Regions from separate parts of the Homo sapiens genome. Here region 1 is linked to region 2. Evidence: fine-mapped QTL for protein levels in blood plasma. A gene starts in region 2. The other region holds a variant in brackets. All regions are shown on one strand. Distances are between the middles of the regions.

Region 1 (16,191 bases), 54 kb after region 2:
ACTTTTTTCTTTCTCAGCTTGTTATTTATTGATCTCTAAACAGTCTTAGATGGAGCCTTTATATTACTAGATTCTTTCTGTCATCAATCTATGTTATTGTGCTGATGCGTATAATAAACAGCAGCCAATATGGGTGACATTTGTGATACAGTCAGTTGTTGATTAGATGCCGTAAGTTGCCTGTACCTTTCATCAAACAAATTTCCTTCTGGAATATTTCCTTGGTAGAATATCAAAGCTAGCCCTGTGGATAAACATTTTTATCTTCAAGATATGAGATATAAGTTATATTATAAATTTGGCCCTTGAAACCAGCACAACACATTCTCCTCCACTCCCTCAGGAGTCCTATTTTGAAGCTGATTATTTGAATAAAATCACAGACAATGGGAAAGTAAGGGAAAATTCCCAGCCATGCTCATAATTAGTTGACTGTATTTCTGATGCAGATGCAAACGTTGTTACTTAATAACGTAATTAGCCAGAGAAACATGTGCTTTAATGAATGCCCCTATGCATATGCAATGCAAATTTGTACTGCTTATTTTTTCTTCCTTGGGGGTATGAACTGCTTTTAAATGTTTATTTCCTTGTGATAGTAAGAGTTTTGGGGGTTTTTTATGTATTAAATAGGATTATATTTTTATTTCCCACTGTGGCCTCTGTTGGATTGATTTTTGAGTATTTCTTAGTAGGAACTACCTATTTTCTTGGATGCCATTTGGTCTGAGCAGAAGTGGCAGTAGCTGGGAATATCTGTGACAGGGTCATGTTCTAGGCAAGCCCCAGGCCAGACTATAATGTCATACATAGGGTTAAACATCAGGCCCAAGAAGGTTTCAGGGAGTCACAGAGCTACAGAGAGACATCTATTTCCAGCAGCTCTCTTGCTCTGGGAAAGCTCTTGGAGACAAGATTGGGCAGGAGGCGTTGTCATCGAACCCTTCCAGACTGACTTGAATGCTTATTCAGGCAACGTTTTCTCCTTAGGTTTTAGCTAACCTGTAAGATTAGAGAACCAAGTCAGGGCCTAGGTGGAGCCCTTCGTGGTGAAACTGCCCAGATTTACTGGACCTGGACTTTGAGGTCATACAAACCACAGTTTGAATATCAGCTCTTTTACGAATGGTGTGACTTTGAATGTGACTTAAGCTCTTAGGGCCTCCATCTTTGTATCTGTAAACTATATGAGATATAGTTTCCACCTACCTTGAAGGATTTTCTTTTTTTGTTTTTTGTTTTTGTGTTTTTGGGACAGGGTCTCTGTCACTTAGGTTGGAGTGCAGTAGTGCGATCTTGGCTCACTGCAGCTTCCACCTCCTGGGCTCAAGTGATTCTCCCACCTCAGCCTCCCAAGTAGCTGGGACTACAGGCATGAGCCACCAATGCCTGGCTAGTTATTGTATTTTTTTTTTTTTTTTGTAGAGATGTTGCCCAGGCTGCTCTTGAACTCCTGAGCTCAAAGTGATCTGCCCTCCTCAGCTTTCCAAAGTGCTGGGATTACAGGCGTAAGCCACCTTGCCTGGCTACTTTGTAGGATTTTCTGTTGTAATAAATAAGGTAGTGTATATCTGGTAGACTACCTTGTGTTTGGGAGTATTTCAATGAATGCTATATTCTCTCTCTCTTTCTTCCTTTTCCTTTCCTTTCCTTTCCTTCCTTTCCTTTCCTTCCTTTCCTTCCTTCCTCCTTTCCTTTCCTTTCTTTCCTTTCTTTTCTTTCCTTCCTTTCCTTCCTTTCTTTTCTTTCTTTTCCTTCCCTCTCCTTTCCTTCTCCTCTCCCTCTCCTTTCCCTCTCCTCTGCCTCTCCTCTCCCTCTCCTTTCCTTCTCCCCTCTCCTCTCTCCTCTTTCCCCTCCCCTCCCGTTCCCTCCCTTCCCCTCCCCTTCTTTTATTTTTGAGATGGAGTCTCGCTCTATTGCCCAAGCTGGAGTGCAGTGGTGCATTCTTGGCTCACTGTAACCTCTGCCTCCCAGGTTCAAGCGATCCTCCTGCCTCAACCTACCAGGTAGCTGGGATTACAAGCATGCGCCACCACACCTGACTGATTTTTGTATTTTTAGTAGAGACAGGGTTTCAGCATGTTTGCCAGGCTGGTCTTGAACTCCTGGGCTGAAGCAATCCTCCTGCCTTGGTCTCCCAGTGTTGGGATTACAGGCGTGAGCCACCATGCCTGGCTGAATGCTATTATTATTAAAATTACTGAGGCCTGAACAACTTTCTTATAATTCCCTGGCACAAGATTAATACTGGTTTTTGTGGGGCTTTTTCTCAGCTCTCATCTACTTGGTGTTTGGTATGTGTGAATTACCTGTGTTGGATAATAAATATGGAAGTAATGTCTGTCCTGTTATTTAGACGTATGATCTGCTGATGTCTGGTTTCTTCCTGAGGGGCTGTTGGCATATCGTAGCAGCATTTATTGCATCTTGAACTGTGATAAAGTAGTAGCAAGCTATCAATGAACAACGGTGTAAAACATACGATTTTAAGCGGACCTTGTGGAGGTACAAGAATTATAAGACAAAGACTCTGTCCTTGAGGAACTGTCCATATATTCGGGAAGGCATGTATTCATAAAAAGACACTAAATCTGCAAGGCAGGAAATAAAGGTCATATGAACAGTATAGATAATGCTTGTATAAGGATAGATAATACTCGGCTGAGTGATGGCTCACGCCTGTAATCCCAGCACTTTGGGAGGGCGAAGTGGGCAGATTTCATGAGCCCAGGAGTTTGAGGCCAGCCTGGGCAACATGGTGAAACCCCATATTTACAAAAAATACAAAAATTAGCCATATATGGTTGTGCACGTGTGAGGTCCCAGCTACTTAGGAGGTTGAGCTGGAAGGATCACTTGTGCCTAGGAGGTTGAAGCTGCAGTGAGCTGTGATTGTGCCACTGCACTCCAGCCTTGGCGACAGGAGTAAGGCCCTGTCTCAAAACAAAACAAAATCCCCTGAAACAACAGAAAGAACAGATAATACTCTATACTTCGTATATCTCTAAGTGTAGGTAATAGTCTTTATTCCACCCCCCTTCTCACCCTCACATCCAAACTATCACCACGAACATTCAGTTCTGCTTCCAGAATACATCACAAATCCATCTCTTCCTTCCATTTCCATCCCCTCTGAAGTCCATCCAAGACCCTATCATCTCTCTGTTGGACTACTGCTGTAGACCCTGGCTGATGTCTCTTTTTTTATTCCTATTCTTCTCCCAACCTTTCTCTACCTAACAGCCAAAGTGGTCTTTTAAAAACCTAAATCAGATTTTTCATTCCCGTACTTAAAACCCAACAAGAGCTTCAGTTGCTTTTAAAATAAAACCCAAGATTTATAAGGCCCTGTGTGGTTTGGCTCTGCTTTTTTCTCCACCTTCATCTCATGCCAGTCTCCCTCTCACTAACTAGGCTCCTGCCATGCAGGTTGCTTTTCCCTTTTTGGAACCCACCAAGAGCTTTCTTATCTCAGGGTCTTTGCATTGGTTCTTTCGTTTGATTGAAATATTCTTCCTTTGGTCCCAAACATGGCTTGCTCATTGCCATCCTTCAGGTCTTAATGTATGTGTCATTTCTTCAGAGAGATCAAATCATTCTAACTACTACTCTATTTAAAAAGTGTTTCTGGGAGGATCACTTGAGGTCAGGAGTTTAAGATTAACCTGGCCAACATGATGAAACTCTTGTCTCTACTAAAAATACTAAATTAGCTGGGCGTGGTTGCAGGCACCTGTAATCCCAGCTACTCAGGAGGCTGAGGCAGGAGAATTGCTTGAACCCAGGAGACGGAGGTTGCAGTGAACCGAGATTGCACCACTGTACTCCGGCCTGGGTGACAGAGTGAGACTTCATCTCAAAAAAAAAAAGATTGTAGGCCGGGCATGGTGGCTCACGCCTATAATCCTAGCACTTTGGGAGGCTGAGACAGGCAGATCATTTGAGCTCAGGAGTTCAAGATCAGCCTGGGCAACATGGCAAAACCCCATCTCTACTAAAACTACAAAAAATTAGCTGGGTGTGGTGGTGCATGCCTGTAGTCCCAGCTACTTGGGAGGCTGAGGCATGAGAATCACTTGAACCTGGGAGGCAGAGGTTGCAATGAGCTGAGATCGTGCCACTGCACTCCAGCCTGGGCAACAGAGTGAGACTGTCTCAAAACAAACAAAAACAAAAATAAACAAAAAACAAACAAAAAAAGTTTTTTTGAAGTTGAGGCCGGTAAGATTGCTTGAGTCCGAGAGTAAGAGACCAGCCTGGGCAATACAGAGAGACCCCGTCTCTACAAAAAACTGAAAAATTAGCTGGGCATGGTGGTACATGCCTGTGGTCCCAGCTCCTCGGGAGGCAGAGGTGGAAGGATTTCTTGAGCCCAGGAGGTCAAGGCTGCAGTGAGTTGTGGTGGCACCACTGCACTCCAGCCTGGGCAATAGAGTGAGATCACAACAACAGCGACAACAACAATGGAAGTTTTCCCCATCCTATCACTTAATAATAATTGTTATTATTATTTCTATATAACATTTGCCACAATCACAGTTATGTGTTGACTTATTATTATTGTTATTTTTTGCCTATTGGCTCTCCCTAAGCTCCATGAGGGCAGAAATCTTACCCACTTTGTTCACTGCTATAATGACTAGCATGTAATAGGCACTCAATAGACAGGAATAAATAAACGAATGAACATAGATCTTAAAAGTTCAGAGGAAGACAGGATCCCTTTGTTAGTAATGGAGCAGATCAGGCACGGGGAAGGACTTTGCTCAGTGTGAGGGTGAAAGAGTGCACCTGCAGAAGAAGGTGTGAGTGCAAAAGCAGAGGAGAGTAAGCTGAGATGGGAGGCACGGGGACTATAGAATTTCAGAGTTGGAACAGCATTTTTCTTTTTCTTTTTGAGATGGAGTCTCACTCTGTTGGCCAGGCTGGAGTGCAGTAGCACAATCTCAGCTCACTGCAACCTCTGCCTCATGGGTTCAAGTGATTCTTGTGCCCCAGTCTCCTGAGTAGTAGGATTACAGGCGCATGTGCCACCACGCCCGGGTAATTTTTGTATTTTTAGTAGAGATGGGGTTTTGCCATGTTGGCCAGGCTGGTCTCAAACTCCTGGTCTCAAGTGATCTGCCTGCCTCGGCCTCCCAAAGTGCTGGGATTACAGGTGTGAGCCTCTGTGCCCGGCCAACTTTCGAGAAGCTGTGGGTGTAGGGAAAAGAATATGACTGACATGCCTTAAACTCCTGGCCATCCCACAATTGCCTGTGTAACTTTGGATGTATCATTCTATCATTTTGAGCAGTCTTTGCCTGTACAGTGGGGAAAATACCCCTTAACATGGATGGGTATTTTGACTATTAATGCTTTATACTTAGGATCCTGTTGGAATGCATATGATGACAAATGGTAGCCATTTGTACCAGGATTTCATTCAGATTGTCAGCTGAGGGTGTGCGCCAAAATGAAATTTGGAGCTTTGTAGAAATTTGAATACCAAGAGCCCAATTCAGTACTACTGAATCAGAAGAGTTATCTCTGGGTGGGTGTGGGACTCCAGCACGTGCGTTTTTCTAAAGCTTCCCAGGGGATTCAGACGTATAGCTGTTAGAACCATGCGTTTAATCCAAGCCGTGCTGAAATCCTCTCTAAATGTCTCTTGCTGAGGGATTGTTCAACTTGAATAGCTCTGTTAACGGGGAACTCACAGAGCCACAGGTCCAAGCTGCTTCCTAAAGGGGCATCCACCTGAGCCTTTGAGCCTTAATCCCTAGAGAACAAGTTACTGATTTCTTATCAATTGGGTGATATTTGGTATTAATTTTTTTTTAAAATCTTGCAGTCCCAACCAAAGTCATCATGCCTTCCATTATTCTTGGTCACGTCCAAGATGGAAGCCAATCTAGTTATCTTTTGTACTTTTATCCCTTTTGTACTTGTGCTTCTCTCCTAATCCAATGACTTGTCACTGGGTTCCCTCCCAGACTTCTCCACTGAGCACTTTAACCTTCCACCTTCAGTGTACATGAATCTATACCTCCAACCTCTTTAGTGATGTCCCCTCTACTTCCTGCTGTAACTGAACTCTGTCTTAAATTAGAAGATGTTTCAGATGTCAACAATGTGACTAGGCAGTCTTATGAAACATTAACCATCTCTTTGGTTGGTTGCTTGTGTACACACAAATATATTCATTCTTGGAATGCCTTGGGCCATTAAATACGTCTAAAGGTTTGATGCTGGGAAAACATGATGAGGGCCAAGGGGTCTTGTGTCTGGTGAATATGCATGAAAAGGGAACCAAAGCTCTGTGGGCAAACATGGGACATGAGAGATAGACAGGGTTGGAAATTAGATGAGATCCTGCTCTGGGAAACCTCCCTCCTGGAAATAACTCTGGAGTCCTGCAACAGCCCAAGCATCCATAATGGGATGTAAAAGAGTGCAGTTGCATTAAATCCACACATTCTGTATCAGAGGCTCATTTAAAAGAAGCCATCTATTTCTAAGGCCAAGGATGGCTGATGGGGATATGGAAACAGGTTATATGATTTTCTCTAGTTTGAATGCTGTTATCTCAATAAAAGGACTTCTGTTTAAAAAGCCTGGATGTTAGGAGGGCTTAATTTTCTTGGCTTTCTACGGATTGGGGAGAAAATCACAAATCAGAATGAATGCCTCAAGTTTTTTTCTTTCTTTTTTTTTCTCTGACCATGGAAGAACAGATTTTTTTTTTCTTTCTGCGTTTAGGTATAACTGGGACTATTGGTGACACTTGAAATTATTAGAGCCATCTTATTTTATAGTTATTATACTTTCTTGAATAACATTGTATCCATGAGTGCTATTGTGTGACATGAAACATTAGTATGCTTTACTTCTTCCCTTCAACTCACTGCTCTGGTTTTATTGAAATAATTTGAAAATTTATTTTTATTATTATTTTACATTGTTCAACTTTTAGTTCTAGAATCCTTTACTAATAGTTATGTCAAGCTCTACAGTCACATTTAAACGATTATGGAGACATCCATACATCTTGCTGATTTCATTGTTCCTTGGTGTTTTCTGTAAAACCTGTCTGCCCTGCACACTTATTCTTACGATATTTGTTCTGATTCATTTTTTCGATTTTTTTTTCCCAGAAAAGATAAACGGATCGATTTTTTAAAATTCTGAAATATCTAAAAATGACTTTCTTGGGCTCTTAAGTGAAGTATAGTTTGGCTGGGTCTAGAGTGGTTATGTCATAATCTTTTACCTGTAGATAGTTCTTTGTAAATATTTAATTGTCTTTTAGTAGTCAGAGTTGTAGAGAAAAAAATTTCGTATCAATTTTGTAATTCCGGGTTTGTCTCCTCCTATGCAACTGATTTTTTTCTTTGAAAGATGCATATAAGTTGAATCCTTAGGAGATAAATACTTTCTCCATTAATTTGCTTTAAAAAGTTCAGAGATTTTGAATATCTTCTATTTAACAGTCAGTTGGCAATAATTGCTACAATTGCGTTATCATCTACTCTGGGATTGATGATCTGAAGATACATAGTAAAATGTACTAGAGAACTGTAATATTTAGAAGGACCCTAAGATATATTATTTCATAGATCAATGAATTCTTTATAAGTAAATAATTGCATAGTTTGACTATTCTCTATGTGTGCATGTTTGGAAATTTTATTAAATTCAGACATACTTATATTGGATTATTTGATGGGGTTAGTGTTTTCTCTTTTCCTGTTTGAGTGGCCTCTATCACTATTAAATATTTATTTTAAAGATATGAATTGTAGGGCTGGAAGTCAGGGCTTATAACCAGTGCTGTCTTGGTTCCCATTGCAGAGATCAACTGTGGCAACCCTCCAGAAATGCGGCACGCCATCTTGGTAGGAAATCACAGCTCCAGGCTGGGCGGTGTGGCTCGCTATGTCTGTCAAGAGGGCTTTGAGAGCCCTGGAGGAAAGATCACTTCTGTTTGCACAGAGAAAG[G/A]CACCTGGAGAGAAAGTACTTTAACATGCACAGGTACAGATTCTGTTCTGGGCTCCTGCTACCCAGGAACAAAACAGCCAGTGGGAGCCGAGGGCCTAAAACTATCTGATTGCTGCTTCACTCTACATACTGTACCCAGCTCGGCTATTTACCTGGTTGTGCACCTGGCTTTAGATTTGTCAGCTAAATCCTGAAGATTTAGAAGGTGGATTGGAAAAATAAGTTGGATAGAAAATGTTATGCATCCATCTTTTGAGACCCACCTTAAATCGCTGTGATTCCTGTCCCCTCTGCTTGACTGTCTGAGACATTTTTCTCCATGAACCATTTTCTCAGAGGGGCATGCTCCTAACTTAACACCTGTTGACCGCTTTTCAGAGAAAAGGTGGTATGACGAAAAATAGTTTTTTAATGTTTCTTAATTGTGTTAACACACAAAAAACATACAATTTAACATCTAATATAGTTTTATTTCTTTTTTTGAGATGGAGTCTTGCTCTGTCACCCTGGCTGGAGTGCACTGGCACGATCTCAGCTCACTGCAACCTCCACCTCCTGGGTTGCAGTGACCAAGTGATTCGCCTGCCTCAGCCTCCCGAGTAGCTGGGAATACAGGTGCCCACCACCATGCCCAGCTAATTTTTGCATTTTTAGTAGAGATGGGGTTTCACCATGTTGCCCAGGCTGGTCTCGAACTCCAGGTCTCAAGTGATCTGCCTGCCTAGGCCTCCTAAAGTGCTGGGATTACAGGTGTGAGCCACCATGCCTGGCTTACCATCTAATATAGTTTGGATGTTTGTCTCCTCCATATCTCATGAGAAATGTGGTCTCCAGTGTTGGAGGTGGGGCCTGGTGGGAAGTGTTTGGGTCATGGGGGTAGATCACTCAGGAATGGCTTTGTGTCCTCCCCTTGGTGATGAGTTCTTGCTCTTAGTTCACATGAGAGCTGATTGTTAAAAGGAACCTGGCACCTCCTTCTCTCTTTCTGGCTCCCTCTCTTGCTGTGTGACATGCCTGCTCCCTCTTCACCTTCTGCCACGATTGTCAACTTCCCAGGGCCCTCACCTGAAGCAGATGCTGGTGCCATGCTTCTTGTACAGCCTGCAGAACCATGAGCTGGATAAACCTCTTTTCTTTATAAATTACCTAGTCTCAGGTATTCCTTTATAGCAACATGAAACTGATGAATACACCATCTTAACTATTTTTAAGTGTGCAGTTCAGTAGTGTTTATGTATACCAATCTTGTTGCACAACCAATCTCCAGAACTTTTTCATCTTGCAAAACTGAAACTTTATACCCATTAAACAACAACTCCCCATTTGCCCCTCCCCACAGCCCCTGGAACCTCACCCTTCTACTTTCTGTCTCTTGTGAATTTCACTACTGTAGGTATCTCATATGGTACTTGTTCATTTGAGACTGGCTTATTTCACTAAGCATAATGTCTTTAAGATACATCCATGTTGTAACATGTGTCAACATTTCCATTCTTCATATAGTCCATTATATGAGTATCCCATGTTTTGTTTATCCATTCATTTGTTGATGGACACTTGGGTGTGTGTTCCATCTTTTGGCTATGATGAATAATGCTGCTATGAAATGTGTGTACAAATCTCTCTTTGAGACCCTGTTTTCAATTCTTTTGGATATATATCCAGAAGTGGAATTGCTGGTGAAAAGGAGTCTTGAGGCCTGGTGCAATGGCTCATACCTGTAATCTCTGTACTTTGGGAGGCTGAGGCAGTGGATCACTTGAGGTCAGGAGTTCAAGACCAGCCTGGCCAACATGATGAAACCCCATGTCTACTAAAAATACAAAAATTAGCCGGGTGCAGTGGCTCACACCTGTAATCCCAGCACTTTGAGAGGCCAAGGCAGGAGGATTGCTTGAGCCCAGGAGTTCAAGACCAGCCTGGGTGACATAGAGAGACCCCATCTCTACAAAAAATTAAAAATTTGCCAGGTGTGGCGGTGCACACCTGTAGTCCCCAGTACTCAGGTGGCTGATGCAGGAGAATTGCTTGAACCCAGGAGACAGTCGTAAGCCAAGATCACATCCCTGTACTCCAGCCTGGGGGATAGAGCGAGACTCTGTCTCAATTAAAAAAGGAGTTTTGAGACTTCACTTCATATTCTAGCAATGCCATATATTAGCTGTGTGTCATTAGGCCAGGCATTCTGAGCCTCGGTTTCCTCATCTATAAAAGAGGGAAATAAAGTCTGTTTTTCTTACCTCAGAGAGTGTTGAAAAGGAATCGAATAAGATAATCTGTGGGGCGCATTTTAGAAAGCTGAAAGCACCATGCACATGTTAGTCTTTTTCCTAAAGTTGTTAGCCTCATGTGAAGATCTTCTCATGAATCAGAAGCGTGTACTTCTACATGATTCATTTCACACCTCTGCCTCTGAGGAACAAGGTGAGAAAAGGCAATGATTCTTACCATTTGTGGTGGTTGATCAGAAGGTATGACAAATGGTTGTCACATAGTCCCTGGGAATATATTTCTGGCTGTTGACTTGCTTGGCTCTGAAGACAGGTCTCTGAAGAGTGAAATCTCCAGGAGCTTTGATCTGGGTCTCTGGTTTGACTAGCAGCAGAATTGTGGTCTTGCCCACCAACATTTTCCATCGGAAATTCTGGCCAGAGCAAACAAGACATGTAGGCCCCTGGGGATTATTTGTCCATAGAGCAGTGGTTCATAACGATGTTGGGGATGGGAATTTGAGGAAATCTGTCCATTCATTCAATAGATATCTATTTAGCATACACTATTTGTCAGGTACTTTGTCGGCATGACCCTCTTGGAATTTACAGTGCAACAGGGGAAACAGACCTTTTCCCCAAAGGTATGCACATACACATACACATATAATGTTTTACAAGTAGCAAGGTGTTCCTGGACCTCTGAAATCCTTGAGTAAAGCATTCTTGGGATAGATGGAAAGCTCACCTCTGCTGTTGAGGCCCTGTATGTGCCATGCAATTCCTATATTTGGTTATCTCCATCGCGAATTCAAGAGGATGTAGGCCAGAGACTGCAATCAGAAAAACAAAGAAGGGTAGAGCTGGATAAGAACCCAGAGATACAATGCAGTCTTCTCTTAGAGAGGTCTCATTGACTTGCCCAGCCTGCACAGAGGAGCAAGGGCAAACGTGTAACTGACACCAAAGACTCTAGGGGGGTCCAGTCTTAATAATTGGAGCTAATGCCACGCTGGACTAGACTGATGGTCACTCCAACCTATCATGGCATTTGCAAAAGCATCTCCAAGAGTTATTTGGAGGAGGTGAGGTAGCTGCCTCCTGGAATGCTGAATTCAATGTTTGGGGAAGTATTCCCGACACAGAACAACTGCTGGAGTCACTTGGTAAGAGCTGGGTATAGCTTGTGAGCCTCAGCCATTTGCTTCATTGCTCAAGCTGCTCTGCCTCCAACATTCAGCAGTCAATGGGGGTATAAGAATTAGTCACCGCATGAAAAACCAGTGGATCTGCATGGGGCATAGTAAGCTATTAATTAGCTGATGCTTGTAGAGCACTTTGAAGAACAAACATGTTATGTAACTGCTAATTATAATTACCATCCTCAGCCTGCTACCTTTCACAAAGTCTGTGGCTCCAGCTGCAGCTGTTTCCATGGGTTTATGCAAGCTTTGATTTAAGAAAAGAAAAGGCATTCTCCCTGAGAGCTGTGATCTTTCTGTGAGGAGGCCTTTATGCCCTCAATCAGGATTGGCAGCTAAATTCAATTTCCGCAGATAAAGGGGATGATTTACATGCTGATTAATTCATGGTACAGTGCAGATGATCTCTGGGTGGGTAGGTAGGAGAGGCTTCTGGTAATGTAGTGAGAGCTGCTGATTACCATGGCTCTTGCTCAGCTACCCCTCTTCTTTTTTCTTTTCCCTGTTTTTCACTTGTTACCTATTTCTTCACTCCCCTCATCCCAACTGTCTCTGTGTATTTTGTTGTTGTTGTTGGAGATGGAGTCTCACTCTGTCACCCAGGTTGAAGTGCAGTGATCACAGCTCACCACAGCCTCCAACTCCTGGGCTCAAGCGATCCTTCTGCCTCAGCCTCCCAAGCAGCTGGGACTACAGACATGACCCACCACGCATGGCTAAATTTTAAAAATGTTTTTTGTAGAGACGGGTGTCTCACTATGTTGCCCAGGCCGGTCTCAAACTGCTAGCCTCAAGCCATCCTCCTGCCTCTGTGTATTTTATATTTCCCTGTCTTCGTGTTCACGTTTGGCTTCCCCTCTCATCTTTTTCTACTTTTCTGCTTCTCTCTGAATGCCTCCTACCTCTGTCCTGTTTTCACTGTTCATCTTCCTGTTTAGTTCCAAACTGGGTAGAATAATTTATCTTTACCTGGGTTGTTTGTAAGGAAGCCACTAGTCTTTGGGATTAGTAGCACAAATCGTATGTGCTTTTAATGGGGTGTGAGCTCTATCAAGCTGGTGGGACTTATTTTTTCCTGCCCCCTCCTTCCCCGCCAGGCCAGTTTGGACTGGAAACTCCAGACAGCTGGGAATTAGGCAATCACTTTCGTGTCTGGAAAAACCCCAGGTGGAAGCTTGATGTTAATGAGTCGGTTTACCTCAAGATCAAAGAGACTGATTCATTCTTGATAAGACTTTCCCTGGCTTCCATTCTGCACAGGCCATTTGGCTTTTCATGTTTAGAATCTGAGTTAATGATTATAAGGCTGACGCTCACTCACTCCACGCTCTCAGAAGGGTAACATCTCTGCTGGAACAGAGGCTGTTTATCGCTAGGATCCTTTCTGTGCCTCTAAACTGCTCTGGGCACTGCTCTGATGCCTCCAGGACTCCTGTTGGCCTCTGTCCCTTCTGTTTGGCTGGTGACCCTCTTCTCCAGCCCACTGGGTGCTCAGTTGCAGCCACACACATTTCAGATGGAACAGAAAGGTCAGCCGGAATAAATGGATACATTTACATAAATAGCCACATGGCCGGATGTATTGGAATATGTGAATGAGGTTTGGACCATCAAGCATTATAGCTACTGCTGGCTGAGCATGAACGTACACACCCAGGGCTCAGCTAGGGACCTTAATGCTCGATTTCATTTCATCCTCTTAAAACCCTTTTGAAGTAAGCTTTGTTATTTTCATTTCATAGATAAGTAATCTGAGACTCATAAAGGTTAAGTGACTTTTACATGGTCACTCAATAATTAGCAAATGGTAGAGCCAGGATTTGAACTGAGGCCTGTAAGCCCAGAAAGACCACATTCTTTCTCCTACATCAGTGTCTTCCAAGCTTGAATTATTTGTATACCACCCTGACACAATGTTTGCCATAATAAGAGTATTATTTACTTAGAGTGTTTCCTTAAACAACCTAACCTTAAATTTATAATTCAAATTTATTAAGGACAATATATGTGATCTCATGAGTTTGATGAAGTAGGTGTATTTTTCTGATATACACAAAAACTGATACATAACGAACAGATAAAAATGTATTCCTGGCTGGGCGCGGTGGCTCACGCCTGTAATCCCAGCACTTTGGGAGGCCGAGAAGGGTGGATCACCTGAGGTCAGGAATTTGAGACCAGCCTGGCCAACATGGTGAAACCCCGTCTCTACTAAAGATACAAAAATTAGCTGGGTGTGGTGGCACGCGTCTGTAGTCCCAGCTACTCGGGAGGCTGAGGCTGGAGGATCACTTGAACTCAGGAGGCGGAGGTTGCAGTCAGCTGAGAACATGCCACTGCACTCCATCCTGGGCTACAGCGCAAGACTCCGTCTCCAAAAAAGAAAAAAAGTATTCGCGTGCCACCAAAAATCATCCCAAAGTGTGCAATATATTTTACACTAACGTACTCTAAGCCATGCTACTCCTACTTATTTTATGTGAATCTAAGACTTCAAAGAAAGAAAGGAAACACATGAAAACTTTTATAGCCAAACATACATTTATTCAAGTAGGCACTGTGGGAAGCCATACCCTGATTTCTGTGGTGCTGCCATTATCATCATGTGTTTGCCTTGGAATCCTATTTGATAATGTCCTTTGGAGGTAGTTTATGAGCCGTATTAGAAGATCAGTTACATTCCTTTTGAAATCAGATGCTGTTTTGACTAGAAATGATGCTGAGCTTGCTTGACCATCTGTTTGGGTCACCTGGATTTATTCTCTATGACCTTTTGCTGTTTCCAAAAATAAAGAAAAAGGATATAAAATTGGAAACCAAGGGAGTACACTAGACCAGCCCCTGTCCTTGCACAGTGGGACTTCTGAAAGAGTAGTCTGGGCTCACTGTCTTATTCCCTCCCCTCCTATGCTCTTCTCAGCCTACTGGGGGGAAACCAGGCATCGAACACCCCCACTTCACTGTAGCATCTCACCAAGGTGACTGATGACTACCTAACTGCCAATTTCATGTTCCAGTTTCAGCTGTCATTCTTCTCAACCTTTCCACAACATTTAGCATTGTTGATCCTTTATCCATCCATTCAACCAGTTCAACCAAATAATACATAGTTTTTAGTATCTATATTTAAGGCACTGTGCTAGGGCCTGAGGATAGAGAGAGAAACATGGTCTTTGCCATCGTAAAGTTACATTCAGGAGAGGTGGTCATTATATAATGACTTACGTATTTAGTTACAAGTGTGTTAAGTACCACATACAGAAATACTAGATGCTAACAAAATACCAAAATACATAACATTATGTACATCTATATCTATATATACATAACATATATATGTACCTGTGTGTACACACACACACATAGAGTAAAGCAAAACAAAGGCTCTTACTTTATCACTCACTGAGACTTTCTCTCCCCAAATCCAGTGAGACTTCAGCTGGACACTGTGGGGGCCTCCTTCTTTTAAGCCAGAGAGGCCTCTGTGTTCTACAACTGGGCAGGCTGAGGGCCTGCTCTTCCCACCTCTACCCAAAGTCAAACCACAGATCTAATCCTGATGCCGTGGGCACTCCATGAGGGGAGAAAAGCCATGTGAGAGGAGAGAGGGAGATGGAGTTTGCACCCTCTGCCTTGACCTGCTCCAGGCCCTTCTTGGCTAGGGGATGAGGAGGCTGTGGGAGACTGGTGGGAAAGAAGGCTGATAATTTTCTTAAAAGAATTTATTTTTATTTTTTAGGGACAGAGTCTTGTTGTATCACCCAGGCTGGAGTGCAGTGGCACGATCTCAGCTCACTGCAACCTCCGCCTCCCAAGTTCAAGTGATTCTCGTGCCTCGGCCTCTTGAGTAGCTGGGATTACAGGTGTGCACCACCACACCTGGCTAATTTCTCTATTTTTAGTAGAGACATGTTTTTGCCATGTTGGCCAGGCTGGTCTTGAACTCCTGGCCTCAAGTAATCCGTCTGCCTCGGCCTCTCAAAGTGCTGAGATTACAGGTGTCAGCCACTGTGCCTGGCCTTGGAAGGCTGAGAGACACTCTTTCAAGTCCTTCCTTTCCTTCCTAGACATCAGTCACTCTACCAGCCTCCTGCCTCTCTTCTGCATTGCCTTTTTCCTCTGGTTCCCCCCTGGGTTTCAGTGTTTCCCAGTGTTCTGCCATTGGGCCATTCACTGTCTCTGTCCTACCTGCATATCTCACCTGCACCCATACCTTCAACTAACATTCACAGATCTATGACTTTCAAGAGTACTTTTTCCCTACATAGTCAGCAGATAACATCGTCACAGCCCAGTGCCTGGCATGGCAGGATGCTTGGCATTTGATAGCCATTCAGTTAGTAGTGAGCAGGGAATGAAAGAGCCCTGGGACAGCTCCAAAGAGGACTTCCAGAAATGTTTTCAGTTATCAGCACTATTGGAATGAGGGCATATAGTCTCCATTAAAAGGGCAGCATTAATGTAGATGTTGAATATCTGATTCTTTTATAAAGGAGTCTTTCCAACTAATTTGTAGGCACCTGGAGGGAAAAGCAACCAAACTTTGTTAAACTGCTCCCTGGGATGAAATATCTGACACCCCTATAATTGGATCTGGGTCCCATCTGTGCAGAGAGCATGGCACAGGCTGGAGGCAGATGGCATCTTTGAGATGCCATTTACAGTTGTCATAGTGAATGAGCAAGAAGGAAGGACAAGAAAGAAAACTCCTTTCTAATCTCTGCTTCGATGACAAAGGAACTGAGAGTAAAAAGGAAATTCGCTTTGCTGGCAACTCAGAGAGAAGATGAGGGCTGGGC
Region 2 (16,191 bases):
GATCAATTCCAATTTTTCCTTCCTTCCCCAAATATGTAGAACACTTACTAGGTACCAGGAATTTTGCCCAGATGCAATGATAGCTGGTGAATGTGGTACACTCCAGGTCCTTGCAAAACTTATAAGTTAATGGGAAAGACTGACAAGACAGACAAGTAAGTGACAGTTTAATACACGTAGTAAGTGCTAAATGTGACATATAGGGGACTTTGGAAGTAGAAATGTATATGGAGACATGAGCAGAGACCTGATTATAAAGGGTCTTGTGTGCCATGCTGGAGATCTTTTTTTTTTTTTTTTTTTTTTTTTTTTGAGATGGAGTCCCACTCTGTGGCCCAGGCTGGAGTGTAGTGGCACAATCCCAGCTCACTGCAACCTCCGCCTCCCAGGTTCAAGTGATTATCATGGCTCAGCCTACATTTTATATATATAATGTAAAAATGGAAAATGCTAAAAATGTAACCAAGATACTATTGAAGAAAAATAAAACCAGAAGATTTTCACTACCAGATATGAATTACAATAAAGCAACAGTACTTAAGACAGTGGTATTAAAGCAAGGATAGACAAATTGGTCAACGGAATTGAATAGAGTTTAGCAGCAGACTCCACACATACCCAATCCCCTGATTCATAATGAAGGCTCCTCTGCAATTCTTGGGGGGCAGGGAGAGGGGTATTTTCAATAAATGATGCTGTAACAATTGGATATCCACATGGGGAAAAATGAACTTCACACTATACATAAAAATTAATTCCAGATGAATTTTAGAGCTAAGTGTGAAAAGTAAAATAAGAAGTTCTACAAGTTTACTCTAGAAGAAAACAGAATAACTTCATGATCGCCAAATAGGCAAAAATTTCTTAAACAGAACACAAAAGCACTAACCATAGAAGAAAACATTGATAAATTACCTTCTTTAAAGTTAAGTTTATTCATCAGATGACATCATTAAGAGAGTGAAAAGGCAAGTCATACGCTTGGAGAAGATATTTGGAATACATATGTCTGACAAGTGACTTAAATCCAGAATATAAGCAAACTCCAATAGATCAATGAGAAAAAGATAACCCAATTTTACAAAATGGACAAAATATGTGATAGCATGTCTTAAAAGAGGATTTCAAAATGGTCAATAAACAAATGTGTTTAATGGCTGGGCACGGTGGCTCATGCCTGTAATCCCAGCACTTTGGGAGGCCAAGGCAGGCGGATCACCTGAGGTCGGGAGTTCGAGACCAACCTGACCAACATGGAGAAACCCCATCTCTACTAAAAATACAAAATTAGCCAGGCATGGTGGCACATGCCTGTAATCCCATCTACTTGGGAGGCTGAGGCAGGAGAATCGCTTGAACCCAGGAGCTGGAGTTGCAGTGAGCCGAGATCACGCCATTGCGCTCCAGCCTGGGCAATAACAGCGAAACTCCATCTAAAAAAAAAAGAAAAAAAGAAAATGTGTTTAATATTTTTGGTCAACAATGAAATGAAAATAAAACCACAATAAGAGGCCCCTATACACACATCAAAGTTGCTAAAATTAAAATGACTGACAAAACCAAATGTTGGCAAGGACATGGAGCTGCTGGAACTCTCTGCATCAGTCATGGAAGTGTGAACAGCAGCTGCTTTGGAAATTTGTTTGGCAATACGCCTAAAGCTGACCATTTATAAATCCTGTGATCCTGGATATTTACCCAGCAGAATAAACACTGTACATACCCCCCAAAACATGTATTAATACAAGAAGTTTCATAGCAGTTTTATTTGGAGCTAAAAATGGACAATTGTCCAAATGTCCATCCACAATGGAATGGGTAAGTAAATTGTTGCATATACATGTTTGCATTGGACTATTACACAGAAATGAAGAAAACAAACTTCTACTGATAACGACATGGATGTAACTCTTACAGATACAATGATGAGTATAAAAAGTCACAAGCAAAAAAATAAATAGTGATTTACTTTGCATAAAATTCAAAAGCAGGCAAAACTAACCTATGGTGATTATACAGGTTGGAACATTGATTACTTATGGAGGACTGACTGATAAAATATATGAGGGAGCTTCCAAGGAGCTTGTAATGCTCTGTTTCTTGGCTTGGGTGGTGGATATTTCGTGTGTGTTTAAGTACAAATTTATAAGCTATATACTTAATATTTGTATATTTCACTGCATGAAAGTTACATCTCAATTTTTTTTTTTAATGGAGGCCGGGGGTGGGAGCAGAATTACTTGAAAGCAGTACTGGAAATCCAGGCATGGTATTATGAGAGCAGCAAAACAGGAGATTTGCTGAAAACATAAAGCAGATGTGATCAGACTGATAAAAACATAACAGAGCTGAGGCACCCACAATCTCATGAAAGCAGAAAGAGAGCATCTCCAAAATAGTACATTTTCCCATTAGAACTCCAGAATTATCTCAGGTTCAGAGATAGCAGAGATGGGAAAAGGAACCGGTAGGATAGTGAACTGGTAATTTATTCATGAGCTACAAACGTCTTCACCTATTTTCTGTTTTAGAAGTGGCTAGTTCTGAATTTTTTCCCCAAGGGATAACTTTATTTATTTATTTATATTTTATTTATTTTGAGATGGAGTTTTGCTCTTATTGCCCAGGCTGGAGTGTAGTGGCACGATCTCTGCTCACTGCAACCTCCACCTCCTGGATCCAAGTGATTCAGTGATTCTCTTGCCTCAGCCTCTTGAGTAGCTGGGATTACAGGTGCCTGCCACCACGCCTGGCTAATTTTTTGTATTTTTAGTAGAGATGGGGTTTTGCCATGTTGGCCAGGCTGGTCTTGAACTCCTGACCTCAAGTGATCTGCCCACCTTGGCCTCCCAAAATGCTGGGATTACCATGACCAGCCCAAGTGATAACTGTAAATGAAGCTTATTGCTTACCAAATAAGATGAGAATAGTGATACAAAAGAGGCTCCCAGAGAAGGCACTGGGGCCAGAGAAAGTATGGCAACCAAGAAGGAGGTCTCAAATGCACTCTCTTTATCTCCCCACTCCTACCTCCTGCTTTGCACAACCACTGGAGCTAGAACCACTGTAAACAAATCTCCATTTACTCCTAAGAAAGCAGAGATTCTCACCTGGAGAAATATAGCCAAATTATTGATTCCATTTTTTTTTTAACTCACCTGTATTAGTCCATTTTCTTTTCTTTTTTTTTTTTGAGATGGATTCTTGCTCTGTTGCCCAGGTTGGAGTACAGTGGCTCAATCTTGGCTCACTGCAACCTCCACTTCTGAGGTTTAAGCAATTCTCCTGCCTCAGCCTCCTGAGTAGCTGGGATTACAGGTGGGCGCCACCATGCCCGGCTAATTTTTGTATTTTTAGTAGAGACTGGGTTTCACCACATTGGCCATGCTGGTCTTGAACTCCTGAGCTGGTGATCCGCCTGCCTCAGCCTCCCAAAGTGCTGGCATTACAGGCATGAGCCACCACGCCTGGCCCCATTTTCATACTGCCATAAAGAAATACCTAGACTGGGTAATTTATATAGGAAAGAGGTTTAATTGACTCACAGTTTTACATGTCTGGGGAAACCTCAGGAAACCTACAATCATGGCGGAAGGGGAAGCAGGCACATCTTACATGGTGGCAGGCAAGAGAAGAGAAAGTGAAGAGGGAAGAGACCCTCATAAAACCATCAGATCTCAGGAGAACTCACTCATTATCATGAGAATAACATAGGGGAAACTGCTCCCATAATCCAATCACTTCCCTTCCTGGACATGGACACGTGGGGATTACAATTGCAGATGAGATTTGGATGGGGACACAGAGCTAAACCATATCACCATCTGATTCATTCTCATAAACTGTTAATTCATAACAGAGGAGACCCTCATGTAGAAATAAGGACAGTCAAAAATCATGAAACACTTGAGGAAAACCAGCAGAAGAAGAGTCATCAAACTCAACAAGTAAATGAACAACTTCCTGATAAAACAGAAGTCATTACAACTACAGAAAAAAAAAAGCCATTCTATACAAAGAAGCAGAGTTCTTAGAAATTAAAAGCATGATTGCTGATATAAAAATATTTCAGCAGATGAAATGAAGAGCAGAACGGCATGGATAAGGATCAAATTCATGAACACAAAGTTCACTAAATTGAGTTATGGCAATCTCCCACATTCAGTAAATGAAGGCAAAGAAAGTAAAGAGTCAAAGAAAAATACTAACAGCCATGGAGGCTAGAGGCAAGTGTTAAAAAATTCCCAGCCAGGCATGGTGGCTCACATGTGTAATCCCAGCATTTGGAAGGCCAAGGAGAGAGGATAGCTTGAAGTTAGGAGGTTGAAGGCAGCCTGGGCAACAAAGTGAGACTCTATTAAAAAAAAATTCCCATGCATTCCAGAAGGGATAAATAGAAATAATTGAGGGAATGAAAGAATCAAATAATTAATAGAAAAAATGTCTTTCCTGTAGAAAGCCTTAATTCTACAAATTGAAAGGGTCCATTGAGTGCTAGGCAAGAATAATGAAACATTATATCCTCATGAAATTTCTGAATTCCCAGGATAAAGAGAAAATCCCCCAAAGCTTGGTAGATATGATAGGAGAATGACATGTCACCTATAAGGGGTTGATAACCACAGTAGCATGGGACCCTCCATCTGCAGCACTCCATCTGAATCTGGAATTCTAGACCACATTAACCTATCACTTAATTATTTTGAATCCAGAATTCTATATTCTGTTAATGTATAATTAAATTATGGGGTTCGGTGCGGTGGCTCATGCCTGTAATCCCAGCACTTTGGGAGGCCGAGGCAGGCAGATCACTTGAGGCCAGGAGTTTGAGACCAGCCTGGGCAACATAGCGAAATCCTGGCTCTATTAAAAATACAAAAATCAGCTGGATGTGATGGCGCATGCCTGTAATCCCAGCTACTTGGGAGGCTGAGGCACAAGAATCGCTTGAACCCAGGAGACGGGGGTTGCAGTGAGCCAAGATTGGGCCACTGCACTCCAGCTTGAGCGACAGAACAAGACCCTGTCTCCAAAAAAAAAAAAAAAAAATTATGAGGGCAAAATCAATATGTATTTGGACTTGCAAAGATTCGAAGTTTACCACCCAGGAATACTTTCTGAAACAGATACTCAAAGACGTCCCCAAAGAAGGTGAAGGAGGAGGAGAAGTGGGAAAAGAGGAAGACATAGGACATGAAAAACAGTGGCGAGCAAAGAAACCAATAGAGCTTGTAGCTAAGTCCATTGCAAAATAATTGAGTAAAGTATTTTTGTTTTGAAGATTGCACTATTTGCCCAGGTCGATGATACGGGTCTTCACTGTGAGCTGGTCTCTCTATCAGTGAAGGTCTGGAACCATCCGCCTTCACAGCTGTTGTGGCTTCCTCAGCGACTGTGCTGCTCATTGCTGATTTGGTCCCCACTGCCTGGCCTGCTTCTCCTTAGGGCTGTGGGTGGCTGATCCTGGGTCCGGAAATGGGCTGTCAGCAGGCTTCCTTTCAGGGTTTGTGGAATAAAAACACCAACAGCTGAGGCTTTTGCAAGTGAGGAAGGTGATGCTGTGTGTGTGTGTGTGTGTGTGTGTGTGTGTGTGTGTGACAGAGACAGAGACTGGGTGACACAGCCTGTCTCACTTGGTGTTGTCTCCACCACCTGAGGTCGGGGGAGGATAGGTGAATACTAAGCCTGCTGCTCCTTGAACTTGTCTGTTGCAGTGTCTGAAGTTTGCTCCCAAATCCAAGTCCAAATCTAAATCTTGCTGCTGCCCCAGCTTCTGCTGGGGGGATCACAGGGTCTCTTGAGTCCATTACAGTGAGGAGAGAGAGCACTATTGTAAAAATAGGGAGTCCAGGACTTGTCCCCTAAGCTGAGCTGTCCCTTTCCACCCATGCTTGTTTTGCTTTTCTGAGAATACTAGCGTTTTGGGTAAATTACACACTGGTTGTAGCACAGCCACGTGCAGCAGACAATAGTGCACTTGTTGCCCAAGGTCTACACACTAACTCCAGGTAGGGTGTTTGATGTATGTGTGTGTCTAAAGGGAGGGAGAGGTATGCTGGAGAAGGCAGAGTAATCCTACTGTTTCTCCAATAGCAGCAAAGTATCTGAGAGTCATTAAGCTTCAAAAAATGAGAAGTTGGCCTTTGTTTGAGTTAGAGACTTCATCAGAAGGGCATTTCTCCAGAGGGACAGGTCCTTCTTATCAGCCTTTACAAATCTGCTTGAGATGATGACTCCATTCTGGGAGGGGTAATGTGGCTTCTTTGAAGGTGGCCTTGGGGTTTTCACAGATGTCGAGTCAGCCAGGGTTAGATGAGGTGGGGGTGGAGCAGACTGTTACAGAGGGACTGTTACTTTGTTTCAAACACACAAGTTTTCAGCCAATATACTTCAAAGGCTTCAAATATTTAAATTATTTCTGTTAATGCAAACTTCAGGCAGTAAGTGCAACCCCAGAGTATATTAAACTCATTACAATTAGATATTCAAGCCATTCCTAAAAAACCCACATATAAACAATTTATTTACAATTTATGGGAGGCTGGGGAGGGAGGATTGCTTTTGCCCAGAAGTTGAAAGTTGCAGTGAGCTGTGATCACGCCACTGCATTCCAGCCTGGGCGACAGAGCAAGACTCTGTCTCTAAATAAATAAATTAAATTAAAAACAAAAATAACAATTTGCAAGCCTGCCAGGAGCTGTCCCAAAGCAGTCTCTGTAATCATTTATGGTCAGGAGTGTGGTAAGCAAGAATGGATTTTTTTCCAGGAGAGTCCCAGGATATTTAGTATCCAATCTCCCTCCTCGATTCTCCTTCTGGCCTTGTAGCCAGATGGGAACCCACTGGACAAACCCCAAACCTCTTCACACTGGAATCCGACACTGAGAAGAGCAGCTTGGGGGAAAATCTCCCTAGAGATACTGAACCAGTGTTCAGAATGAAATTTTTTGCCTGCCCTCTGCCTTCCCATACCCATGGCTCTCCAGAGTCCTCTCAGAGCTCTCCCGAAATCCCATTCACTTATGTCTCAGGAATATTGGGAAAAATGGGGCTTTCCAAGATATCTTTCTTGTAAACCTGATCCCATATAGATTTGCCAGAACCAAAACTAATTTGGAAAGTCCTTAATATTTGCCTATTTGATAAAATAAAAATAAAAATGGGCATAAACGTTTTTTGTCATTGAATTTTTAAAAACGATTTTAAACTTTTTTTTTTTTTTTTTTTTGAGATGGAGTCTTGCTCTGTCACCCAGGCTGGAGTGCAGTGGCGCGATCTCGGCTCACTGCAACCTCTGCCTCCCGGGTTCTCGCCATTCTCCTGCCTCAGCCCCAGAGTAGCTGGGACTACAGGCGCCTGCCACCACGCCTAGCTACTTTTTTATATTTTTAGTAGAGACGGGGTTTCACCGTGTTAGCCAGGATGGTCTCGATCTCCTGACGCCGTGATCCACCTGCCTCGGCCTCCCAAAGTGCTGGGATTACAGGTGTGAGCCACTGCGTCCAGCCAATTTTAAACATTTTTAAGGCTGGGTGTGGTGGCTTATGCCTATAATCCCAGGACTTTGGGAGGCCGAGGTGGGTGGATCATTTGAGGTCAGGAGTTTGAGAACAGCCTGACCAACATGGTGAATCCCCGTCTCTACTAAAAGTACAAAATTAGCTAGGCGTGGTGGCATGTGCCTGGAATCCCAGCTACTTGGGAGGCTGAGGCAGGAGAATCGCTTGAACTCGGGAGGCAGAGGTTGCAGTGAGCCGAGATAATGCCATTGGACTCCAGCTTGGGCAACAAGAGTGAGACTCTGTCTCAAAAACAAACAAACAAACAAACATTTTTAAGTGTACAGTTCAGTGTTAGGTCCATTCACATTGTTGTGCAATCACCACCACTATCCATCCACAGAACTTTTTTCATCTTGCAAAACTGAAAGTCGATACCCACTAAACACTAAGTCTCAGCCAGGCATAGTGGCTCACAACTGCAATCCCAGAACTTTGGGAGGCTGAAGCGGGAGGATCCCTTGAGGCCAATAGTTCAAGACTAGCCTGGGCAACACAGCAAGACCCTGTCTCTACATTTTTTTTAAAAAATTAGCTGGACATGGTGGCATGTGCTTGTAGTCCCAGCTACTTGGGAGGTTGAGGTGGAGGGATCGCTTGAGCTTGGGAGGTCAAGGCTGCAGTGAGCCATGATTGCACCACTGAACTCCACCCTGGGTGACACAGTGAGATCCTCCTGTCTCAAAGAAAGAAGAAGAAGAATGAGGAGGAAATGGAGGAGAGGGAGAAGGAGAAGAAAGCTTCTTTCAAGTTCTTTTTTAGAAAATGCTGGTATATTAACCATGCTCTCTTGAAAGAACATTTTTCTTAAGTCAAATACTTTGTCAGCAATAATCCCACTGTTCCTCCAAACTTAACACTGGTTCAAGATTCTGTTTTAATTCTTGTGACAAATACTGTTGGATGAGGAGATAATTTTTCATTATGTGATCCAATGAACTCACCATTGAGTAAGAAGTATTGTTTTAACCAAAAATATGTATTTGAAATTTAAAAATGAGCCAATGAAAAGAATTGATGAAAGTCAAGCAATCTAATGTGGAATATAGAGTAAGATGGATTGTCCTGAAATATAATTTTCAAAAAGTTGAAAACATGACTTATGCAACTATAAGATGAAAACATATCTAAGATTCTATTCAATTGATTAATGGAGGACTCAGTAAGTTGTTGATCTCAAAGGAGAACTAGCAAGATGTTAAGGTTCAAAGGAAAATCCAACATCAGGAATGATCACATGAATTTGCTAATAGGTGCCAAACTGGTTAACTAGTTAGTATCATATAGGACAAAATGAAATTAGTGGGTTTAACTTATTTATTTTCTGGCAGAAAGGACTGATCACTTATATTTCTCTTGGAAAACATTCATTTTCACTGCTATGGACATAAATCTTTTACATTATCATCAGTTTTCGGCAAGTTAACTTCTAGCCCTCTAGTGCTGCAAAATAGCCTAGTCAATAGGAAGTCCAGCGACGGTGCACCCAGCACCCCACTGAAAGGATACCCAGTAATCTCTTTTGCCCATTTCCAAGTTTTGGACAAATTTTCCTGACATTATCAATAAAAAATGTATATACATATATACTTAAGTTTATTTATTTTGCAAGGGGCCACAGTGGGGATGAAGTGGTATAGGCTGGTTAAAAATCTTAAGTGAATGGTATATTTGTTGAAACAATGACATGATTTCCAAGTTTGAAGTTTATGGAGAGCTGAACTTAAAAAATTTGTCTAAATAATAGAGACACACCGTCCATCTATTGCTCCCCAAACAGGTGCCTGTCTTTGTTGATCAAAAATAATTTTCAAGAAAGCCTGCTAAGAAAAGAGCTTGTGAGGCCAGATGCAGTGGCTCACTCCTGTAATCCCAGCACTTTGGGAGACCAAGGTGGGAGGATTGCTTGAGCCAAGGAGTTGGAGACCAGCCTGGGCAACATAGCCAGATCTTGTCTCTACAAAAAAAATTTTTTAAATGAGCCAGGCATGATGCTGCGCCCCTGTAGTCCCAGCTACTGGGAGGTTGAGGCTAGTGGACTACCTGAGCCCAAGAGGTTGAGGCTGTGGTGAGCTGTGCACTCCAGCTTGGGCAACAGAACAAGACCTTGTCTCCCCAAGAGGAAAAAAGAGCCTAGGAAGATGAGCTTTTTCTTTGTTTGTTTTTGTTTGTTTGTTTTTTTAAGAGAGGGGGTCTCACTGTATTGCCCACATGGGCCTTGAATTCCTGGACTCAAGCAATTCTCCTGCCCTTCAGCCTCTTTAGTAGCTGGGACTACAGGCATGCCACACTTCACCCAGCTTGAAGTTGATTTTTAACTACTTGTTAAGACTCCACAACTTTAGCCCTTATATGGGTGTGTTTGAAAGTGGTGAGATTTACGGCAGGCTCATGGCAGAGAGTAAACAAGTGAGGATATGGGGTGAAGTAGTGGGGTGCCTGCTCTCGGCTGCGCTCCCACAGACATCACAAGCTCAAAGCCTTCAAACCGGATCTTATTTATTTCCTTCTCCCCGACTAGTCATAAAACCTAGTGGATTCCACTCTTACACACTGCCCTCTTCACACTCATTTGTCAATGCCCAGCTGCAGGACACATCTATCTCTATCTCTATCTGTCTGTCTGTCTGTCTGTCTGTCTATCTATCTATCTATCTATCTATCTATCTATCTATCTATCTATCTATCTATCTGTCTATGGAGTCTCACTCTGTCGCCCAGTCCGGAGTGCAGTGGTGCGAGCTCGGCTCACTTCAACCTCCGCCTCCTGGGTTCAAGCAATTCTCTCGCCTCAGCTTTCCGAGTAGCTGGGATTACAGGTGCCTGCCACCGTGCCCACCTAATTTTTTTTTTTTCAGTAGAGACGGGGTTTCACCAAGTTGGCCAGGCTGGTATCGAGCTCCTGACCTCAAGTGATCCACCCGCCTCGACCTCCCAAAGTGTTGGGATTACAGGCGTGAGCCACCGCACCGGGCCAGGACATGTCTTCTATTGCCTGATTCCTGCAGCAACTCCGGGCTGGACTCTTTGCCTTCCACATCCCAACCCAACCCCAATCCCAATTCCACAGAACAGACAGAGATGTGTCAGTGATGAAGTCATTCACTGCTTGAAACTGTGACAGCTTCCCGGCGACCTCCATCACTTGGGTTAGGAGGGCTAACTTCCCTCTGCAGCTCAACGCCCCTCTCCAACCCTCTGCTCTCACTCTAGGTCCCCATTCCCCATTTCTACAACAAACTCCCGCTTAGATTCCTCCCCAACGTCCTTCTCATCCTTGGGTCTTGGTTTACTCCTTCCCTTGGGATGAGTACGGCTGTGATGGAGGTAGGGGCTGGCATCAGCGCGTCCCAAGCCGGGTGTCCTCAGAGCAGCGGGGACTGATGCCAGCCCCTCCCTCCATCACAGCCCTACTCTCTCTCACTCCCGGTGACCAGGTGTCACCTGGTCAAGTGTGTCGCCCCTGGGTGGCCTGGGTCTGCGTCTTCCGACCTCTCATCTGGGCCTTGCGCTGTGGTCACCTCATCCAGCTCCCTTTCACGTCCTGGAAGATTTCCGCCCCTTGCTCCCCTCACCCCTCTCCCCGGGGGTGCCTCCCTGAGCCCTCGAGTGGCTTGAATCCTCCGCAACATTTCCTCCCCAGCACTCTCCGGGGCTCTGCGTCCAGCTGTGTCATTATCCGATGAGTGTCTGTCCCCCTTTGCGAATGTGAGCGGCGAGAGGGCAGCAAGTGCGGAGCCAGAGACGGACGCGGAACGGGCGTGTCCTAAGCCCAGGCCCCGACAAGAGGAAGGACCCGCGCTCTGCGGCCTCCCGGGGACCCCGCAGCGCCCCCCGCTTCCCTCGGCGGCGCCGGAAGCCGCCGGCTGGTCCCCTCCCCGCGGCGCCTGTAGCCTTATCTCTGCACCCTGAGGGCCCCGGGAGGAGGCGCGGGCGCGCCGGGAGGGACCGGCGGCGGCATGGGCCGGGGGCCCTGGGATGCGGGCCCGTCTCGCCGCCTGCTGCCGCTGTTGCTGCTGCTCGGCCTGGCCCGCGGCGCCGCGGGAGCGCCGGGCCCCGACGGTGAGTGCGGGCTGGGACGGGCACGGGCGGCCGGCGGGGCCCCCGGCTGGGCCTCGAGGACTCTGGGCGCACGGACGCTTCCCCGCCCCTGGGCCGGGCCGGCGCGGTGCCGAGGCGTGGGGCGCAGGTGGGGCCCGCGCCGGCCGTTGGAGATCGGCAAGGAGGAGCTCAGAGAAGCGGGGGGCTCCCCGCCGGGCTTCCCTGCCCCCGCCCGACCCCGCGACGCCGGGGGACGCCGGTTTTAAGGCGGCCTGGCCGGGCCCCCAGGGACCTCCACTGCCCAGGAGGCGGGGTGGGGGCTGGGCGCGAGCGCGGACCCGGGCAGGGCGGCGCCCGGGGAAGGGCGGGGAGGCCAGGGCGTTCTGCGGCGCTGTCACGCTTCCGGCTCTGCGGTGGCTTTTGCATGACACATTTTTGACCCGAAGCAATTTTCTTACCACTTTTAATTTTTTCACGTTGTTAGAGAGCCGGATGCTAAATATGGTGAGAAAGACGCGTAAGGAAGAGTACAGGAGTGAAGCCATTAATTCACTCATTCATTCAACAGATGGCCCTTGAACAGCTTCCCTGTGCGCGATGAGGGCGGGCAGTGCGGGCCCTCGTGGAGCTCATTGTCTGGAGGATTTAGACCAGCAAATGTTCTATTTCCAAGCAATCGAGGGAGTTGTTTTTCCTCCTCTGCAAAATGCAGTGTTGAGCTGAGTAGGAATTACACAGAGGATTCAGACACGCAGGGGAGGTGACATTCATCCACATAACTGTAATACAAGGCAGAATGGCATGGGTGCCATGAGAAGGTGTGGGTGGTGAGGGCAGGGAAAGGGGAATCGGTGGTGACCCTTGAGCTGGGCCATCAATGATTGGTCATATTTGGATATGGGAAAATGTGAAAAAGGTATCCCAGCTCATAGCAGAAGGCACTGTCACCTCTCCACAAATGAGTGTAGAATGAATGAATTCCTTCAGAATTCAGGCCCGGGGGAGAAGGGAAGGAAGCACACGGAGGCACCAGAGGCAGAGGGCAGAGTGCCTTGATTGGCAGACCTAGGCCTTTGGACTTAGCTGTGCCTGGAAGCCACTGGAAGCCGTCTCAGGGAGTGACAAGAAAAGTGGGTCTAGCCAGTTCTAGGCGCTTCGGGAGCCACAGGTTACAGTGCAGACATGGCCAAATCCAAGCACCACACCACACACAACCAGTCCCGAAAATGGCACAGAAACGGCATCATGAAACCCGGATCACAAAGATACGAATCTTTTAAAGGGGTGGACCCCAAGTTCCTGACAAACATGCGGTTTGCCAAGAAGCACAATAAGAGGGGCCTAAAGAAGATGCAGGGCGACAGTGCCAAGGCCATGAGTGCACGTGCTGAGGCCTTGCCCTCATAAACCCCAAGGAGGTTAAGCCCAAGATTCCAAAGGGTGTCAGCTCTTGCCTACGTTGCCCACCTCAAGCTTGGGAAACGTGCTCGTGCCCGCATTGCCAAGGGGCTCAGGCTGTGCCAGCCAAAGACCAAGGTCAAGGATCAAACCAAGGCTCAGGCTGCAGCTCCAGCTTCAGTTCCAGCTCAGACTCCCGAAGGAGCTCAGGCCCCTACAAAGCCTTCAGAGTAGAGATCTGTGTCTGCCAACGTGAGGACAGAAGGATTGTCCCCCTTGGACTGCCATCTGCATGGGGCTGATGTCCTCCTTTGCTATTTGTATAAGTAAACTTGAGGCGGGGGAAAGAGGGTCTAAGGAACCCCCATCTTCCTTACTAAAACCAAACGCTGATCCTGAAGTGGAAGGAAATTTCCATGTGATGACATACAAGGAGACTTGTGGTTGAGAATCCTGCCTGCCGCCCCCACCCCCATTCTCTTTGGCTTGGGACTTTTACCATGCCTGATGGGTATTTCAATGGCTTGATCTTCTGGAGTGGCCATTTTTGTAATATTAGGTGCCCTGGTTAAGATTCCTTCCTTGGCTCTATCTCCGAGAACAGTGCGCATAGGACTTGCAGATGCTTGGCGTCTATTTCAGGATCTTCCTGTGATATCTCTAAGGTAGGAAACTGTCCAGTATGATCCCATTGAATTGTTAGACTAAGATGGCTGAACACAGCTAGTAGCTACGTAAGGTCATCTGTAACTAAAGGTTTTGGGGGTGAATTTGGGGAAACAGAAGTCAAGGCTTCCTGGTTGAGCCCCCTCTCCTTATCTAGACATTCTCCCTTCATGTTCAACCTTGGAGAACCTGGTTTTATGAAGGGCAGGTTTCCTGACAGTCGACAATGTAGGGAAAGACTGGAGGCTTGGACAAGCCCATTGAGGAAGTTGTTGCAATAGCTGGCCTGGAAGTTCTGAGGACTGGGCCCACAGTAATGACAGCAGAAACGGACTGAATGTAGACAGTAAGGTGGAAATGGACTGGAAGGAAGGATTTAATAACAGATATGAAGGTGCAAGGGAACAGAAGGGGAAAGATGACACTAAGGCTTGGGGGCTGGGTGACTTGGTATATGTTTCTACGGAAGGAGAAAGATTTGGAAAGAAAGATGATTAGTTGTTTTGGACATCCTGAATTTGAGGTGCTGTTATGGATTTGGAGAGATGAAATCAATAGACTTGATGGTTGCTTGAAACCTTGAAGTTGACAAGATTGGGAGGATGAAAGACAGATCCTTGGAGAGGATTCTTGGAGTTTAGATGGTAGATGCAAGTCGAGAAGGAAGAAGCAGCATCTGGGTAGGATGGAGAAAGACTAGGCTCATTTAGTCAAGGAAACTAGGAGATGGGAAGCCGAGAGGCAGAGATTGAGAAAAAGCCTTTGAATTGGATGGATCTGGTCAGTGGAGACCCAGAGCTAGTAGAGGAGAGAGGGTGAGAGCTAGATGTGAGGGCTCTAGGTTGAGGGCAGAGACCTTGTTTACGGAGTAGATACTCTTTTTTTTTTTTTTTGAGACAGTCTCACTCTGTCGCCCAGGCTGGATGGAGTGCGGTGACATGATCTCGCTTGCTGCAACCTCTGCCTCCTGGGTTCAAGAAATCCTCCTACCTCAGCTTTCCGAGTAGCTGGGATTACAGATATGCACCACCACACCTAGCAAATTTTTGTATTTTTAGTAGAGATGGGGTTTCACCATGTTGGCCAGGCTGGTCTCGAACTCCTGACCTCAAGTGATCTGCCCGCCTCAGCCTCCCAAATTGCTGGGATTACAGGCATAAGCCACTGCTCCTGGCCTCGGAGTAGATACTCTTTAAAGAAATTAGAAGGAAAACGAAGGTAGCATTCAGCTGGGCTGGTCAAGTCAGTCCAAGATGTTTAGAGAATGCAAAACAGACTCAAACATATTTTAGACTGAGGGGTATTATTTAGTAGAGAGGGGAAAAATGAAAAAGCAAAAATAAATGAGATAGTTAATGGACAGAGCAGGTCAAAAATTAAACTTGGGCTATAAGTGGGGGAGGTTAGTTTCTTAAAGTGGGGGGCGAGGAAGAAGATTAGAGGACTGTGTTTCCCTTCTCCCATGGCGGGCTACTTAATGAGTGCTATTCATATTTCAAAGCAAGCCTGGGTGTCCTCACTCCTCCTAGGAAGTCCGTTGCCACTATCCGCTTCTCTTTACAGCACCAGTAATACCATATTCCGTGCCTTGGTTGTACACTTATACCATATTGCAGTGTGATTGTTTACTAAACTAAGAGCTCCTTGTGGGTAGGGACAGTGGCTTGTATTAGGAATCTGGTAGGCAAATAAATGAATACCATCCAAACAAGAATAAGCAAAGGCTATTTATTCAGAACTTGCTGTGACAAGGGAGTCAGCCATCATCACTTCCATTTGGCAGAGACTCAAAGATAGGCTGGGGGTGGAAAAGTTTTACAGTAGAAAAAGGAAGGGGGTTGGGGGTGGTGGTGGTTCAGGTACGCCCAGCTGGAGAAGTTTTCTAGCAGCATGCATCCCATGTGATTGGTGAGAGGGCCATATCTGGCTTTTCTGGTTAGTCCCAAGTTGGAATTGGGGGCAAAAATTAGCGTAGCTGGCCGTTACTGATTAAAGCCTGACCATTTGGGGCTGATTGCTACAGAGTTCCTGGAATGATTGCTGCAGATTGTGGGTTAGACTTCTATTTTAATATATGGGCTGGGTGCGGTGGCTCACGCCTATAATCCCAACATTTTGGGAAGCCGAGGTGGGTGGATCACTTGGGGTCAGGAGTTCGAGACCAGCTTGGCCAACATGGTGAAACCCCATCTCTACTAAAAATACAAAAAAAATTGGCCGGGCCTGGTGGTGGGCGCTTGTAATCCTAGCTACTCCAGAGGCTGAGGCAGGAGAGCCGCTTGAACCTGGGAGGCAGAGGTTGCAGTGAGCCGAGATCATGCCACTGCACTCCAGCCTAGGTGACAGAGCAAGGCTCTCTCTCTCTCTCTCTCTCTCTCTATATATATATATATATATGATCTGGCCATTGTCCATTTGTATATTCAGTCTGTCACTGGCAACATGGGCTGAATGACATTAATTGGCATCAAAGATGTTTTGGGGAGGAGAGCTGAAGTCAGTTGAACTGAAGTCAGATGACCTGAGT

Alleles and levels. Positions count from the first base shown, and alleles are read on the strand shown. Strength reflects both the effect of a copy and how common the allele is.
As copies of A replace G in region 1, the plasma level of the protein whose gene starts at base 11,457 in region 2 goes down (moderate association).

The links. PIP is the posterior inclusion probability: the model's chance that the variant is causal. The UK Biobank Pharma Proteomics Project read protein levels with antibody pairs (Olink). The fine-mapping took linkage between variants from a reference panel, not from the people measured, so its PIPs are less certain.
Region 1: its variant is fine-mapped to the plasma level of the SUSD1 protein (UK Biobank, PIP above 0.99). The variant lies in the coding sequence of SUSD1. If it changes the protein, the assay may bind it differently, which can mimic a change of level.

The regions. Positions count from the first base shown.
Region 1 is chr9:112,116,079-112,132,269 of GRCh38, reverse strand. SUSD1 (sushi domain containing 1) reads left to right here. Exons shown (of 17, transcript NM_022486.5): 6 at 7,834-8,013. Among named protein-coding and RNA genes, the nearest start is that of SUSD1, 51 kb to the left of the region's middle. RefSeq lists an enhancer at 11,205-11,776. The variant G/A (reference allele first, on the strand shown) is at 7,981.
Region 2 is chr9:112,170,563-112,186,753 of GRCh38, reverse strand. SUSD1 (sushi domain containing 1) reads left to right here and starts at 11,457. Exons shown (of 17, transcript NM_022486.5): 1 at 11,457-11,621. The coding sequence starts at 11,519. It also overlaps the pseudogene RPL29P20. RefSeq lists an enhancer at 5,556-5,705 and a silencer at 11,339-11,998.